Linked DNA regions of Homo sapiens: region 2 is linked to region 1. Evidence: fine-mapped expression QTL. Tissue or cell type: monocytes after R848. Region 1 holds a variant in brackets; the other region holds the start of a gene. All regions are shown on one strand. Distances are between the middles of the regions.

Region 1 (8,000 bases):
GAAACCCTGTCTCTACTAAAAATACAAAATTAGGCAGGCGCGGTGGTGCTTGCCTGTAATCCCAGCTACTCAGGAGGCTGAGGCAGGAGAATCGCTTGGACCTGGGAGGCGGAGGTTCCAGCGAGCTGAGATTGCACCATTGCACTCCAGCCTAGGTGACAGAGCAAGACTCCATCTCAATAATAAATAAATAAATAAATAAGAAGAATAGTTGGTCAGGATAAGGGGTGGTATAAGGTTTTTCAGGCAGAGAGAACAGCATCTGCAAAGTCCTAGAGATAAGAAATCACTTGACATGTTTGGGAGACACCTTGAAGCCAGTGTTGATAGAGAAAAAAAAAAAGAATTTTGGGGTGAAAAGAGTTTGAAGTTTGAGGGTGGGAACTCTCAGAGATGCGGCTTCAGAGGAAGGCAAAGCCAGAACAAAAACAGACTCTAGGGGCCTGGCACAGTGATTCACACCTGTAATCCCACTATGTTGGGAGGTTGAGGTGGGAGGATCACTTGAACTCAGGAGTTCAAGACCAGCCTGGGAAAAGTAGTGAGACCCTATCTCTACTTAAAAAAAAAAAGAGGCTGGGCGTGGTGGCTCATGCCTGTAATCCCAGCACTTTGGAAGGCCGAGGCAGGCGGATCACAAGGTCAGGAGATCAAGACCATCCTGGCTAACACGGTGAAACCCCGTCTCTACTAAAAAAAATACAAAAAATTAGCTGGGTGTGGTGGCAGGTGCCTGTAGTCCCAGTTACTTGTGAGGCTGAGGCAGGAGAATGGCGTGAACCTGGGAGGTGGAGCTTGCAGTGAGCCAAGATCGCACCACTACACTCCAGCCTGGGCGACAGAGCGAGACTCTGTCTCAAAAATAAATAAATAAATACATACATACATACATAAAAATTTAAAAAAAAGAAAAGAAGAAAGAGAAAGAAAAGAAAGAAAGAAAGAGAAAGAAAAGAAAGAAAGAAAGAAAGAAAGAAAGAAAGAAAGAAAGAAAGAAAGAAAGAAAGAAAGAGAGAGAAAGAAAGAGGCGGGCCAGGCCAGGCGCGGTGGCTCACGCTTGTAATCCCAGCCCTTTGGGAGGCTGAGGCGGGCGGATCACCTGAGGTCATGAGTTCGAGACCACCCTGGTCAACATGGTGAAACCCTGTCTCTACTAAAAATACAAAAAATTAGCCGGGCATGGTCGTGGGCGCCTGTAATCCCAGCTACTCGGGAGGCTGAGGCAGGAGAATTGCTTGAACCCGGGAGGCGGAGGTTGCAGTGAGCTGAGACCACACCATTGCACTCCAGCCTGGGCAACAAGAGCAAAACTCTGTCTCAAGAAACAAAAACAAAAACAAACAAAAAACCACACATTAAAAAAAAAAAAAAAAGAAAGAGGAGGGCATGGTGGCTCATGCCTGTAATCCCAACACTTTGGGAGGCTGAGGCAGGTGGATCACTGAGGCTGAGGTCAGGAGTTCTAGACCAGTCTGGCCAACATGGTGAAACCCCATCTCTACTAAAAATACAAAAATTAGCTGGACATGGTGGTGAACACCTGCAATCCCAGCTACTCAGGAGGCTGAGGCAGGAGAATTGCTTGAACCCGGGAGGCGGAGGTTGCAGTGAGCCGAGACCATACCATTGCACTCCAGCCTGGGCAACAAGAGCAAGACTCTGTCTCAAAAAACAAAAACAAAAACAAACAAAAAAACCACACATTAAAAAAAAAAAAAAAGAAAGAGGGCATGGTGGCTCATGCCTGTAATCCCAACACTTTGGGAGGCTGAGGCAGGTGGATCACTGAGGCTGAGGTCAGGAGTTCTAGACCAGTCTGGCCAACATGGTGAAACCCCATCTCTACTAAAAATACAAAAATTAGCTGGACATGGTGGTGAACACCTGCAATCCCAGCTACTCAGGAGGCTGAGGCAGGAGGATTGCTTGAACCAGGAGGCGGAGGTTGCAGTGAGCGAAGATCATGCCACTGCACTCCAGCCTGGGTGACAGAGCAAGACTCTGTCTCAAAAAACAAAACAAAAACAAAAACAAACAAAATATTAGCCAAGCATGGTGGTGCATGTCTATAATCCCAGCTACTTGGGAGGCTGAGGCAGGAGAATCACTTGAACCCAGGAAGTGGAGGTGGCAGTGAGCCAAGATCATACCACTGCACTCCAGCCTGGGAGACAGAGCAAGACTCTGTCTCAAAAAAAAAAAAAAAAAAAAAGACCAGCCTGGGAAAAATAGTGAAACCCCATCTCTACTTTAAAAAAGAAGGAAAGAAAAGGGGACTCTAGGGCCTCAACACCAAGCTGAAAGAGAGTCTGGAACCTTATCCTGGGGGGCACTGGGCAGCCAAGGGGAGGGTGCTGAGCAGGGAAGGGGTATATTCGTGTTTTTGAGACCTTGGAGGTAAAAGAAGAGAGATTCCAGCTGGGGGCTGGGGCTGGTCTGCAGAAAGGGGACTTTCTCTGCCTTCCGCTGCCAAGGTCCAGCCCAGGCCCCAGCATGTCCCCTTTCCCTCCTCCTGGGCAGGTACTTCATGAACATCACGTGGGATAACCGGGATTACTCCTTCAATGAGGACGGCTTCCTAGTGAACCCCTCCCTGGTGGTCATCTCCCTCACCAGAGACAGGACGTGGGAGGTGGTGAGTCGTAGCCCCAGACCTCAGGCATGGCAGAGGGTGTGGACTCCTGCATCCTGGCAGAGGGGGGGCTTGAGGTCGTGGACTAAGAGGGAGGAGGGGACAAGGAGCCTGGACTCCTGGGTCCTGGGATCTGAAGGTGGGAGGGGCTCCTGGGTCTTGGAAGAAGCTGCTGCCCACACACCTAGGTCTGAGGGAAGAGGATCATGGAGGCCAGGATACACCGGGAAGTCTTCCCAGGAAGCCTGACTCTCTTTCCCTTTGGCCAAGGTGGGCAGCTGGGAGCAGCAGACGCTCCGCCTCAAGTACCCGCTGTGGTCCCGCTATGGTCGCTTCCTGCAGCCAGTGGACGACACGCAGCACCTCACGGTGGCCACGCTGGAGGAAAGGCCGTTTGTCATCGTGGAGCCTGCAGACCCTATCAGCGGCACCTGCATCCGAGACTCCGTCCCCTGCCGGAGCCAGCTCAACCGAACCCACAGGTGACAGCTCGGGATCCAGGAGTTCCGGCTCCAAAACCCGCCTCCCGTGAAGCCCAGTAGTCTGGGCCCCCAGCCCCCTCCTCCCTTGGGACCCAGGACCCACAAAGCCCTCCAGCTTGGTGACCTTAGGCAAACCTCAGAATTCTTTGAGCCTGAGTTTCCCCTGAAAGCGCTAACCATAGTTTTAGCTGCCGCCTATCCCTTCCTCC[A/G]TATCCTCTCTTCATGAGAGAGTCTAAGGAGGGGGTCCCCAAACTCCCCAAGCCTGGTCACTGCCCGCAGCCCTCCACCGGATGCCCCCCGCCCGGAAAAGCGCTGCTGCAAGGGTTTCTGCATCGACATTCTGAAGCGGCTGGCGCATACCATCGGCTTCAGCTACGACCTCTACCTGGTCACCAATGGCAAGCACGGAAAGAAGATCGATGGCGTCTGGAACGGCATGATCGGGGAGGTGAGGGGGCGGACGGGAGGCGGGGAATCTTCGGGGCGGAGTCGAGAGGCGGGCACAGCCGGGCGTGGTGGCTCACGCCTGTAATCCCAGCACTTTGGGAAGCCGAGGCGGGCGAATTGCCTGAGCTCAGGGGTTCGAGACCAGTTTGGGCAAAACGGTGAAACCCCGTCTCTACTAAAATGCAAAAAATTAGCCGTGCGTGGTGGCGGGCGCCTGTAATCCCAGCTACTCGGGAGGCTGAGGCAGGAGAATTGCTTGAACCCGGGAGGCGGAGGTTGCAGTAAGCGGAGATCGCGCCACTGCACTCCAGCCTGGGCACAGAGTGAGACTCAGTCTCAAAAAATAATAATAAAAAAAAAGAGGTCGGCACCCTGGGGCAGGGGCGCGGCCAAATTGAGGAAACACCTGATTGGGGCCTGGGGCGGGGTCGCGGGAGGGACATGCCTTGGAACAGGGGGCGGGGTCAGGAGGTGTCAGGGGCGGGGTTTGGAGGAGGGACTTTGGAGCAGAGGAGGCGGGGCTAGGAGGGTGGGACTCCTAGGGGAAGGGGGCAGGGCTGGGAGGAGGGACTTTGGGGCAGTGGAGGCGGGGCTAGGAGGGTGGGACTCCTAGGGGAAGGGGGCGGGGCTGGGAGGAGGGACTTTGGTACAGAGGAGGAGGGGCCAGGAGGGTGAGAATCTAGGGGAAGAGGGTGGGGCTGGGAAGATCTGGACCAAGGCCTTGAGGTCTTGCTGGGAGCAGCCGGGTAGGACGCGGGCTACCAATTCCCAATCTTGTTCCCCATTTCTCACCTCCGCCCTTCCCTGCCCCACTCTTCGTCCCCCTCCTCACCCACCTCGCAATCCCTCTTGGCCCCTTCCCTCACCCTGTCACTGGTCTGCTCCCGGGGCCCGTCTCTGCTCGCCGTCCGTGTCAGTCTGTCCGCTTGAGCCGGGTTCCCCCGCCCACTCCTCATCGCCCCCACCCCAGGTGTTCTACCAGCGCGCAGACATGGCCATCGGCTCCCTCACCATCAACGAGGAGCGCTCCGAGATCGTGGACTTCTCCGTCCCCTTCGTGGAGACCGGCATCAGCGTCATGGTGGCGCGCAGCAATGGCACGGTGTCCCCCTCGGCCTTCCTCGGTAATCTGGGGCCCTGGGACAGGGAGCTAGCCCTAGGCAAAGTAGCCGTCCCCAACCGTGTGGGCCCTGGGATCAGAAAACCTGGGTTCCCGGTATCATCGGTACTTGAACCCGCTGTGCAACTTCGGTGAAGTGACATCATTTCTGAACCTCAGTTTCCTAATCTACAAGATGGAAGAAATAATTTCCCTACCCAGAAGACATTTCATCAAGAGGCTAAAGAAGCTTGAGCTCAGGAGCCTTCTCTTGCACTGCAGCTTCCAAGCCCTGCACCTGGTTTTGTATTCATAAGGTTGAATTATTTTTTCTCAAAGAGAGCCCTCCAAATTGTGCAAGCTTCAGGCCCCACAAAACCCAAGTGTTTTCCTGTACTAGGTATGAGATGAAGAGAACAAATTAGCATGGTACCAATACCTTGTAAGCACTTAAGTCACCATCAGTGTTTACTGAGCATCTACTATGTGCCAGGTGGTGGGCTCCACACTGGGAACACAGTGGCAAATGAGGAAGACACAAATCCCTGTCCAGTAGGATCTCTCAGCCTTGTGAAGGAGGCAGAAGATAAGCTTCTACTTCTCTCTCTCTCTCTCTTTTTTTTTTTTTCAGACAGAGTCTCACTCTGTCGCCCAGGCTGGAATGCAGTGGCACCATCTCGGCTCACTGCAACCTCAACCTGCCTCTCAGGTTTAAGCGATTCTCCTGCCTCAGCCTGCCAAGTAACTGGGATCACAGGCATGCACCACCACGCCTGGCCAATTTTTGTATTTTTAGTAGAGACGGGGTTTCACCATGGTGGCCAGCCTAATCTCAAACTCCTGACCTCAGGTGATCTGCCCACCTCAGCCTCCCAAAATGCTGGAATTACAGGCGTGAGCCACTGCACCCGGACAAGGGTTTTAACTACAGAAGATGGTGTGGGGATATATAATCAGATTTAAGTTTTTAAAATATCCAGCTCTGTGTAATCCCAGCTACTCCGGAGGCTGAGGTGTAAGGATGGCTTGAACCCAGGAGGCAGAGGTTGCAGTGAGCCAAGATGGCACCACCGCACTCCAGCCTGGATGACAGAGCCAGACCCTATCTCTAAAAAAGAACAAAGAAAAAAATCCCACTCTGTGGAAGCAAGTGGCTGGTGGGGATGCTACTGCAAGGTTTATGCCAGAGACAGAGTGGGGGTGTGCAATAGGAAGGTGACAGCAGACAGATGCAGGGTGTGGTTAGAGAGCTGCCCACCAGATGGGCTGGTGGCTTTGAGATGGATTGGGTAGAGGGACCATTGCTGAGCTGGAGAAGCGTACATCGGCCAAGGGCAACAGTGCTTGTCAGTTCCCACTTGCTCTCTGAAGTGTGAGCAAAGCTCCTGGGAGAGGGGAGGGGCTGGAAGAAGAGCCATCCCTTCCTTTGTGTTTTGTTTTCTGTTTATTTCGCCCAGTGGTGTCTCCTGTGGCCTCCCCTTTGCACCAAGGTCTCTGCAGGGCACACTGAGAAGCACCACGTGGGGCCCCTGCTTGCAGGCAGCACACTGCAGAGGAGTGACAAGGTCCTATTTATGCCCCACCAAGTTGCCCAGCAGAGGTGACAGGCGTGTCCCCAGCTGCCGCAGTGACAGTCCAGGGTGCTGACCTTGCTGTGACGGGGGCAGTCCTGACAGCTCACACTTGGCCCTGGAAAGTTGAATCACCTGGTCCTAATCTCAATGAAATGGTGATTTGGGTTTATTGTTGGTGAGCTCCCAGGGGCTAAACACAGTTATCGAATGTGAGGAGGGGACACATGAATGGGAGGTTGTCTAATGGACAGGGCAGGGTGTTAACTCTAGCAGGGACACCTAGGAGACAAGGAAGAGAGGGTGTCGCTGATTCAGGCACCTGCGAGTTCTTTTTTTTTTTTTTTTTTGAGACAGAGTCTTGCTCTGTCACCCAGGCTGGAGTGCAGTGGCACGATCTCAGCTCACTGCAACCTCCACCTCCTGGGTTCAAGCAATTCTCCTGCCTCAGCCTACTGAGTAGTTGGGACTACAGGCGCCCACCACGACACCCAGCTAATTTTGTATTTTTAGTAGAGATGGGGTTTCACCATGTTGGCCAGGCTGGTCTTGAACTCCTGACCTTAGGTGATCCTCCCACCTCGGCCTCCCAAAGTACTGGGATTACAGGCGTGAACCACCACACCCAGCCACCTGTGAGTTTTGAGTAAAGCATGGGTGCTTGAGAGAGTGATCAGGACAGAAAGGAGAGTGTGACAAGGCTGAGTGGCAGGGACTTTGTCCTGGGGGTGCTAGGGAGCCTGGGGAGGGCTGTAAGCAGGGGAGGGGCCAGGTCCTCTCTGTGCTGTGTGGGGGATAGGCTGTAGGGGACAGACAGGAGCTCAGGAGGCTGGGGAAATGGTTGGTGGGAGGAGATGAGGCCTGAGCCCTGTTGGCCATGAGAATGGAGAGGAGAGGCCCAAGTAGCATCAGGGGCAGGAGCGTGGGGCTGGATACTGACAGGCTGTGGCCAGCGAGGGAGAAGGAGGGAGGAAGGGAGGACGGCAAATGAGGTTTGGGCCTGTGACTGGGTGGATGGTGGGGCTCCCATCATGAGGAGCGTGGGAGCTGGTCTGGGCTCAGCATGGGACATGATGAATGGCCTGAGGAGATGGCTGGGGTAGGTGGAGGCTTGGGCCTGTGACTCAGGAAACATTTAGGAGACAGTTTCTATTTGGTGGCTGAAACCACAGAAATGCCTGCGACGGCTCTCTTTGAGAATGGCTGCCTCCTAGGGGTATGGGTGTGCCATAAGACTATCTTGGAGATGGAGAAGCAGAGATAGGGCCAGAATAGGATGGGGTCAGATCTGGGCTGCACCTTGTTCCCTGCTGGTAGTACCCTAGGGTTTTTTTTCTTTCTTTTTTCTTCCTTTTTTTTTTTTGTAGAGACAGGGAGTTCAAGGCCAGTCTGGTCTTGAACTCCAGGCGTCAAGTGATCCTCCTGCCTCAGCCTCCCAAAGTTCTGGGAGTACAGGCGTGAGGCACCGCCCCAGCCTGATCCCCGAGTCTTTTGCTTGGCTGAGCCATAACCACGCACTCCCTTGTCCCCAGAGCCCTACAGCCCCGCCGTGTGGGTGATGATGTTCGTCATGTGCCTCACTGTGGTCGCCGTCACTGTTTTCATCTTCGAGTACCTCAGTCCTGTTGGTTACAACCGCAGCCTGGCCACGGGCAAGCGTGAGTCCCCCTTCCTCCATCCCCCGCCTCGGAGATCCCGAACCACAGAGACAGAGAACTACATTTCCCAGCAGCCCCTGGAGGGGGGGCGGTCAAGCTAGGGCCTCTCGG
Region 2 (8,000 bases), 240 kb before region 1:
GTAATCCCAGCTAGTGGGGAGGCTGAGGCAGGAGAATCACTTGAACCCAGGAAGTGGAGGTTGCAGTGAGATCATGCACTCTAGCCTGGGCAACAGAGTAACACTCTGTCTCAAAAAAAAAAAAAAAGAAAGAAAAAGAAAGAAAAAGAAAAAGAAAAGAAAGGGTTCTTAATCTGGGGTCCACAAAACCCAGGAGTCCAAGAGCAGAACTCAAGTGGTCTATGAAATTTGACAGGAAAGAAATTACGACTTTATTCTTGTAAACTTCTAATTGGAACTGAGCCTTTCCTTCCATTATAAATATTAAAGATATAAAAAATTATAAATTTTCTATATCTTTAATATTTATAATGGAAGAAAATAAATTACACATTATAATTATGTAATTATAATTATTTACATTATATTTCCTTCCACTATGAATATATTTTTTAAAAAAGGACTAGCAGGACCTCTGCGTGGATTGCTTGAGTTGAGACCAGCTCAGACCAGCCTGGGCAACAGAAATGGTTTTCTTTGACTTTCCCTTCCTTTGCACAGAAATCTTCTTCAACCCATGGGGTCCCCTTTCGTTTTCTGGAATCAGTACTCTCTGTCCCGCACCACACGCCTCTAAGTCTCCACTACTCTCTACAGCCTTGGCCGCCACATGTTGGCACCACAACTCAAACTCAATTTTGGAATCAAAAAACTCAGTAGGCCGGCACTGTGGCTCACGCCTGTACTCCCAGCACTTTGGAAGGCTGAGACAGGCGGATCACGAGGTCAGGAGTTCAAGACCAGCCTGGCCCGCATGGTGAAACCCCATCTCTACTAAAAATGCAAAAAATTAGCCAGGCATGGTGGTGCCAGCCTGTAATCCCAACTACTCAGGAGGCTGAGGCAGGAGAATCACTTGATCCCAGGAGGCAGAGGTTGCAGTGAGCTGAGACTGCACCACTGGACTCCAGCCTGGGCGACAGAGCGAGACCCCGTCTTAAAAAAAAAAAAAAAAAAAAAAAAACAAACAAAAAAGAAACTCAGCAATTTCCAAACAGAGTTTCTCAGGGCCAGTTGGGGAGCAGGAAGTAAGCAATGCTTCAACCAAACAGTTCACACAGAAAGCAGGTTAGGGACTTAGCCACCAAAATCCTGAGGGCAAAGGAGAAAACTATTACGATCCCTCCTGAGTGCTCAACTGCCTAGGTACTTGACATTCTCAATTATACTGACTCTCCACAACAACTCTGTTACAGAAACTAAGGCACAGAGGGGTTTTCAAAGGAACTTAACCTGCATCTATAGTACGTTCCACCCCAGGTCGGCCTGCTCCACAGCTCACCTCTTAACCACCAGACTGAGTTGCAAGGGAAGGAGAAATACATAAGCGTTTACTGGGAAGCCTACTCTATGCCTGACAGGCTGATCACATTCTCAAATACCCTCAATCCTCAAGTCAGCCCTCCAAGACAGGTGAGATCATCCCCACTTTATAGATGAAGGTAATGAGGACAGAGGAACATAGCTGGGGTTCAGGCAAGGCTTCAAAACCCGGTGTGGCTGGCTCCAAAGCCCACGTTCCTTTCTCCTTACCACGGTACTCAAGGCTGGCTTCTCAACTCTGTGTACTGCTGAGTTGGGGGGAACAAACTGGTTGATGCCTCTGGAGGACCACCTGGCGTCTCTATCGGAACGGCAACCCCACTTCTGTGTATTTGGCCCACAGAGACCCTCACAGGTGGACCAAGTGAGGCACAAAGTTACCTGCTGCAGCACTAACTGTAATGAGAGAAGACTGGAAACTGGTGGAATGTCTACCCTTAGGGAACTGGTTCCCTCATTACTGGAATACCATATGGTAGAATATTGTTCAGGGTTAAAATTAAATGAATGATGGATAAAAGGTATAGGAGTTTTTTGGGGGGATGATAAAAATATCCTAAAATCGATTATGGTAATAACTGCACAACTCAGCGCATACACTGAAAACCACTGACTTGTACACTTTAAATGGGCACTTTAAATACACTGAAATACACTTTAAATACACTGAAAACCGCTGACTTGTACATTTTAAATGGGCAAAATTGTACACTTTAAATGGGCAAACTGTATAATTGTGAATTATATCTCAATAAAGCGGTTACCAAAATGAAGAGATAATGACAGGAAAAATATCAAGTAAGGATGAAACAGTACTCAGTAATAAAAAGAAACGAAGCACTGATACAAGCAACAACTTGGGTGGACCTCCAGGGCATTGTGCAGAGTAGAAAAAAGGTAACATCCTAATAATATATGATTCCATTTACATAACAATCTCCGAATGACAAAACTAGAGATGGTGAACACATTAGCGGTTGCCAGGGGCCTGGGGAGGAGTTCTTATGTGGAGAGGGAACTGTTCTATATCACAATTACGATGGGGGTTACACAAATCTATACAAGGAATCAAGCTGCACGGGCACACAGATGCACAATCACACTCACACCACACAAACTGGTGAAAACTGAACAAGGTCTGTAATCTAGTTAACAGAACTGTATTGATGTCAATTTCCTGGTTTCGATATTGGGACTACATAAGATGTCACCATTAGGGGAAGATGGATATACTCTTTTCACAACTTCCTTGAATCTATAATTATTTCAAAATAAAAAGTAAAAACAAGAGGTAAGCTCCATCCCTTTATCAAGCATACATTAGGCCAGACGTCTCCCCATTCAGATGATTCTCCATCTTTTACGAGCCCTTTACCTAGACCTGGACCTTACCACTGACCTCTCCCTGACACCACCCATCTCCCTCCAGTAGGGCCCACTCCTTCCAGGTGATGCTGCTGCCCGCGATTTACCTTCTTCTAGCCCCGCCCCCTCAGCACTTCCAGGTGGCCCCCGCCCCCTCAGCACTTCCGGTTCCCAGCCAGCCCCACCCTTGGCACCTCCCCCTTCCAGGTGGCCCCGCCCACACGCAATCTTTTCCCCGGCCCCGCCCCTTAGCTCCCTTCAGCCCCTCCCCCTCCCAGATAGCCCCGCCCCCTCGGGGGGCCTTCCGATTTCCAGCTGGCCCCGCCCACACAGTTTTCCCCCCCCCGGCCCCGCCCCTCAGTTCCATTTGGCCTCTCCCCTTTCCAGGTGAACTCGCACCTCAAGGCCTCTTCTCAGAGGACCTGTCCAACTGTCTCTGTCTCTCGTCTACCCTCTACCTGGCCCCCCTCCCTCTGGGAGACACCTCTCTGCACTCTCCGGCGGCCCGCAGCCCGCGCTCTTCCGTCTCCACCGCGCTCTCGGCAGCCTCAGCGTCCCCACGCCCACTCCTCTGCAGACACCCCGACATGGCGAAGCATAGGCCCCAAGCATTCGGCGCACCCGCCGCCCTCCGCCTCCCATCTGCTTGCGGACGGCCCCACTTGCCTTGCGTTGGTCCCGCGCGCCGCTGCCCGGGCAACACACTCAGATCCGCCAGGCGCGCCTCTGCAGTCCCAAGTTCGCGCCACGGCATTCGCGCGCAGACGTCTGCGGGCGGGGGCGGGGCAGAGCCTAGGGGCGGGACCTGGGCACCGTCCGCACCGCCGCCGTCGCGCGGAGGACACTGGGAGTCGTAGTCTCCCGAATGGGAGGAGGGCGGGAAAAGGGGTGAAGTGGGGCGAGCCCTCCCGCAGAGCACACTGGGAAAATGCCCGCGCTTTCCCTCGCCCTGGATGAGCGGGTGTGGCTGAGGGTCTGAGGAGTGACTGGCAGGGAAAGAGGAGGAATCGGTGGAAGCGCCCCCGCGAGGCACGGCGGGAAGAGAGGCGGGAGACCGCGCGGGGCATCCCGGGAGCAAGGGCCGGGCCAGGCCTGGGCGCGGGGCATTGTGGGAGGTGGACGCCGCTCCGGGGCGGGTAGGTGAGTGGGGAGGGGCGGGAAGGGTGCACATCTTGGGGAGGGGAGAGGCACAGCTAGGTGGGACGGCGGGGCTGGAAGGTGCCGCAGCGGGCGGGGAGGGGGGGAGTAGGAGGGTCGGGAGCGGGCTGGATGGGGCTGCTCGAGGGGAGACGCGCAGCTGGACGTGGGGGGAGCATCTGGGGTGAAGGAGCCCATCCGAGGACGAGGGGCCATGTCTAGAACGAAGATGCATATTGCGGGGGATGGTGGATGTAACTGGGAGGAGGGGCCCACAGCTGGACTGGGGGCCGCATCTGAGGAGGAGGGGACCACAGGTGAATACTGGTGACACTTCCGAGGAGAACTAGCCACAAGTGGGGCACACACCTGTAGGCGAAGCGTGGATAACTGCATGTGGGGAGTACATCTGGAGATGAGAGTGTCTCAGGGAAGCCCCAGCTACAGCTGCATGTGGCGAGCCATAGGGTCATAATCGGGGGAAGGGGCAACAGCTGCACGCCAGAGGCACATCTGGGGAGTGCGGAGCCACAGGTGCATGAAGCATGTGACCGGGTGAGGGGTCCGTGGCCTGGATGTGGGAGCACATCTGGAGATGGAGCGTCTTTGGAGGGGTTACAGCCAACTGTTGGCACATGGAAGGAGGAGTTCCAGATGAATACGAGAGTTAGAAGTTACTCTTGGGTGAGAGACACAGCTGGAAGGGGAGGAGGTTTTAGCTGGAATTTGAGAACACATTTGAGGAGATGTCCTTAAGGGACATCTGAGCTTAAGGGTCGTATTTTGGGAGGAGAGATTCCAACTGTACCTAAGGGTCACATCTGCGGAGGAGGAGACGAGTTGGAATTAGGAATCAAGATGACAGGCTCCAAGTGAACCAGGGATAAGGCGGTGGGAGGAGGCCAAAGATAGGATGGAGGTTGATATTTATATATTTGGAGAAAAACAGGCACGTCCGACCCCGGGCTACCCACCTCGATAGAGGCACCAGCAACCGACGGGGCAGGCCAAGAATGGAGTAGATGAGATACCCCGGGTGGGAATGGGTCTGATATCCACCTGTTCTCCCCTCCTCCACGCAGGCCCCCAGGATGGAGCGGCCGGAGCCCCCACCCGGCACGGCTGCGGGGCAGGAGGAGCAGGAGCTGCGGGAGCGGGCCTTCTTCTCGTGGGCCGAGTTCAGCCGCTTCTTCGACGCGTGGTGCCAGCAGCGGCTGGCGCTCTTCTTCGTCAAGAGCTCCATGCACCTGGCGCGCTGCCGCTGGGCCAGTGCGCCCCCGCTCTACACGCTCATCGACGTGCTCAAGTACAGCTACGTGCGGCTTGTGTGCAAGGACGTGCGTGCGCCCAGCCGGCCCGCCGTGGGGTGCGTGAACCTGAGCCGCTGTCCTGCTGGGGGGAAGGGGAGCACCGGGGGTGGGTGTGGGTGGGAGACGGGCAGAGAACACCCCACCCAGAGATGCAGAGGGGGAGAGGCCAACTGAGGCAGCCAAATACACCTTGCAGAGAGGCGGGAGTCAAGGAGGGACATGTACTGAGAGAAGAAGAGGAGCTAGAGAGACAAAGATACTCACGGAGCAAGAGATGGTGTGGGCCCGACTTACAGACTTTTTTTTTTTTTTCGAGATGGAGTCTCGCTCTGTCGCCCAGGCTTGAGTGCAGTGGTGCCATCTGCAGCCTCCACCTCCTAGGTTCAAGTGATTCTCCCGCCTCAGCCTCCCGAGTAGCTAGGACTACAGGCACCTGCCATCATGCCCGGCTAATTTTTGTGTGGTTTTTTGTTTTTGTTTTTGTTTTGTTTTGCTTTGTGTTGTTTTTTTGAGACAGAGTCTTGCTCTGTCACTCAGGCTGGAGTGCAATGGCACAATCTCGGCTCACTGCAACCTCCACCTCCCGAGTTCAAGCGTTGTTTCTCCTGCCTCAACCTCCTGAGTAGCTGGGATTACAGGCACGCGCCACCACGCCTGGCCAATTTTTGGATTTTTGTAGAGATGGGGTTTCACCATGTTGGCCAGGCTGGTCTCAAACTCATGACCTCAGGTGATCTGCCCGTCTTGCCTCCCAAAGTGCTGGGATTACAGCCGCGAGCCACTGTGCCCGGCCTGACTTACAGAATGTAATAGAGACTTCGAGAGGCAGAGCGTAAAACACACACACCCCAAGAGGAGAAAATAGTCACGGAAAATTCCAGAAACATGGAGACATGGAGGCAGAGACACCAGAGACAGCCAGGGAAACAGAAGAGCCAGGTTTTGTACACGTGACAAAGACTGGGAGACAGAGACTGGGAGACTGAACTGCAGAGAAGCCGCAGGATAAAGAAAAGGATCCATCTATTCAGTGAATAAGGGGCCAGGTCCCATGCTGTGGGCTGGGGATATTCTAGTTGGAGCGATGGAGTTGGGCAAGAGACAAAAATCCCTGCCCTTCTGGTACTTTCTGACTGGACAGAAAGATTGACGTTAAAAGAACAAGCTCACAGGTAGTTCCCTACAACTGTGCAAAGAGGGGCAGGTGAGAAATCCAGGAGAGCCAGAATCACACCCAGGTGGCCAGGGGTATTTTAATGGACCCCAATTGTATTTTATTTAGTCTTTATTTTTTTGAGACAGGGTCTTACTCTGTTGCCCAGGCTGGAGAGCAGTAGTGCGATCTTGGCTCCCTGCAACCTCCAACTCCTGGGTTCAAGAGATTCCCCCACCTCAGCCTCCCAAGTAGCTGGGACTACAGGTGTGTGCCACTATGCCCACCTAATTTTTGTATTTGTAGTAGAGATGGGGTGTCACCATGTTGGCCAGGCTGGTCTCGAACTCCTGACCTCAAGGAGGCTGAGGTGATCTGCCCACCTCGGCCTCCCAGAATGCTGGGATTACAGGCATGAGCCACCACACCCAGCCAAATTGACCCCAATTTTATTTTACTTTATTTTATTTTATTTTATTTGAGACGGAGTCTTGCTCTGCCATCCACACTGGAGTGCAGTGGCACAATCTCCACTCACTGCAACCTCAGCCTCCTGGGCTCAAGCAATTCTCCTGCCTTAGCCTCCCCAGTAGCTGGGATTACAGGCATGCGCCACCATGCCCAGCTAATTTTTGTATTTTTAGGGTTTCACCATGTTGGCCAGGCTGGTCTTGAACTCCCGACCTCAGGTGATCTGCCTGCCTTGGCCTCCCAAAGTGCTGGGATTACAGGTGTGAGCCACGGTGCCTGGTCTGACCCCAGTTTTAAACAGGGGTTGTTCCCCACACAGTTAGGTTTCCAGCTTCCACTGGAACACCGGAAGAGGTGAGCCCATGTTTCCATTGGCAGACGGCCACCCCTCTTGGATGGGGCTTTGCTGCCCAGGTTTGCCCCAAACCCTGCCACTCTCTGCTGCCTCATCCCTAGCACTGTCTTTTGCTTGTTTTGCCTGCCTGGTCCCAGTAGGTGTGTGAGTTTGAGACCCTTGGTTGGGGAGCTGTAGACAAGAACAGAGTGCTTAAGAACACAGGCTCTGCCTTTAGGCTGCCTGAGACATGCTCCACGACTTCCTGGATGGGTGACTTTGGGCAATGGACTTCACATCTCCAAGCCTCAGTTTTCTCATCCTTTGAAATGGGGTTATCACGATACCCGCCTCATGGGGCCATTGTGAGGATACTGTGAGATCATACATGAGAAAAACACATAACCCTGGTGCCTGGAACATGGGGTGGCTGGTTAAGTGATAGCTGTTACAGGATTCGAGAGCATGGACTCTGGGCCATTGTGCTGCTGATGCTTGGTGGATGCTGTTGAGTGAGTGACTTCACCTTTCTGTGGCCTCAGTTTCCTCATGTGGAAAATGGGAGACATAATAGTGTCTATCTCATAGGTAAATTATTCAGAAAGGCATCCAGCACAGAGTAAGCACACTCTTAACAGCTCTTTCACCGGTAGTTATTTAAACATGTATTGTGAAATACATTCTTGCAACTTCTTTCTCACTACTTATTCTAGAAACAGAGACTCGGAGATCTGAAAGTGGAACAGCATCAAACACACACATCACCCAGAAACCTAGAACGTTAGAGCTTGCAAGAAGCTCAAAGAAGCTCAGGCCTAATCTGAAACCTATTAACAGAACCCAGTTCCAATGTAACAAATGCTTATTG

Evidence for each region. PIP is the estimated chance that this variant, and not a neighbour inherited with it, causes the effect.
Region 2: it holds the start of LIG1, and the variant in region 1 is fine-mapped to the expression of LIG1 in monocytes after R848 (Quach 2016, PIP 0.95).

What each region holds. Positions count from the first base shown.
Region 1 is chr19:48,411,471-48,419,470 of GRCh38, forward strand. It overlaps GRIN2D (glutamate ionotropic receptor NMDA type subunit 2D), which reads left to right. Exons shown (of 14, transcript NM_000836.4): 5 at 2,521-2,635; 6 at 2,903-3,114; 7 at 3,394-3,562; 8 at 4,532-4,685; 9 at 7,764-7,889. Among named protein-coding and RNA genes, the nearest start is that of GRIN2D, 22 kb to the left of the region's middle. RefSeq lists enhancers at 2,918-3,639, 3,345-3,484, 7,197-7,963, 7,714-7,953. The variant A/G (reference allele first, on the strand shown) is at 3,324.
Region 2 is chr19:48,166,848-48,174,847 of GRCh38, forward strand. It overlaps LIG1 (DNA ligase 1), which reads right to left and starts at 3,497. Exons shown (of 28, transcript NM_000234.3): 1 at 3,394-3,497. It overlaps ZSWIM9 (zinc finger SWIM-type containing 9), which reads left to right and starts at 3,833. Exons shown (of 4, transcript NM_199341.4): 1 at 3,833-3,867; 2 at 4,947-5,230. The coding sequence starts at 4,956. RefSeq lists silencers at 2,936-3,005, 3,036-3,085, 3,886-4,025 and an enhancer at 2,979-3,638.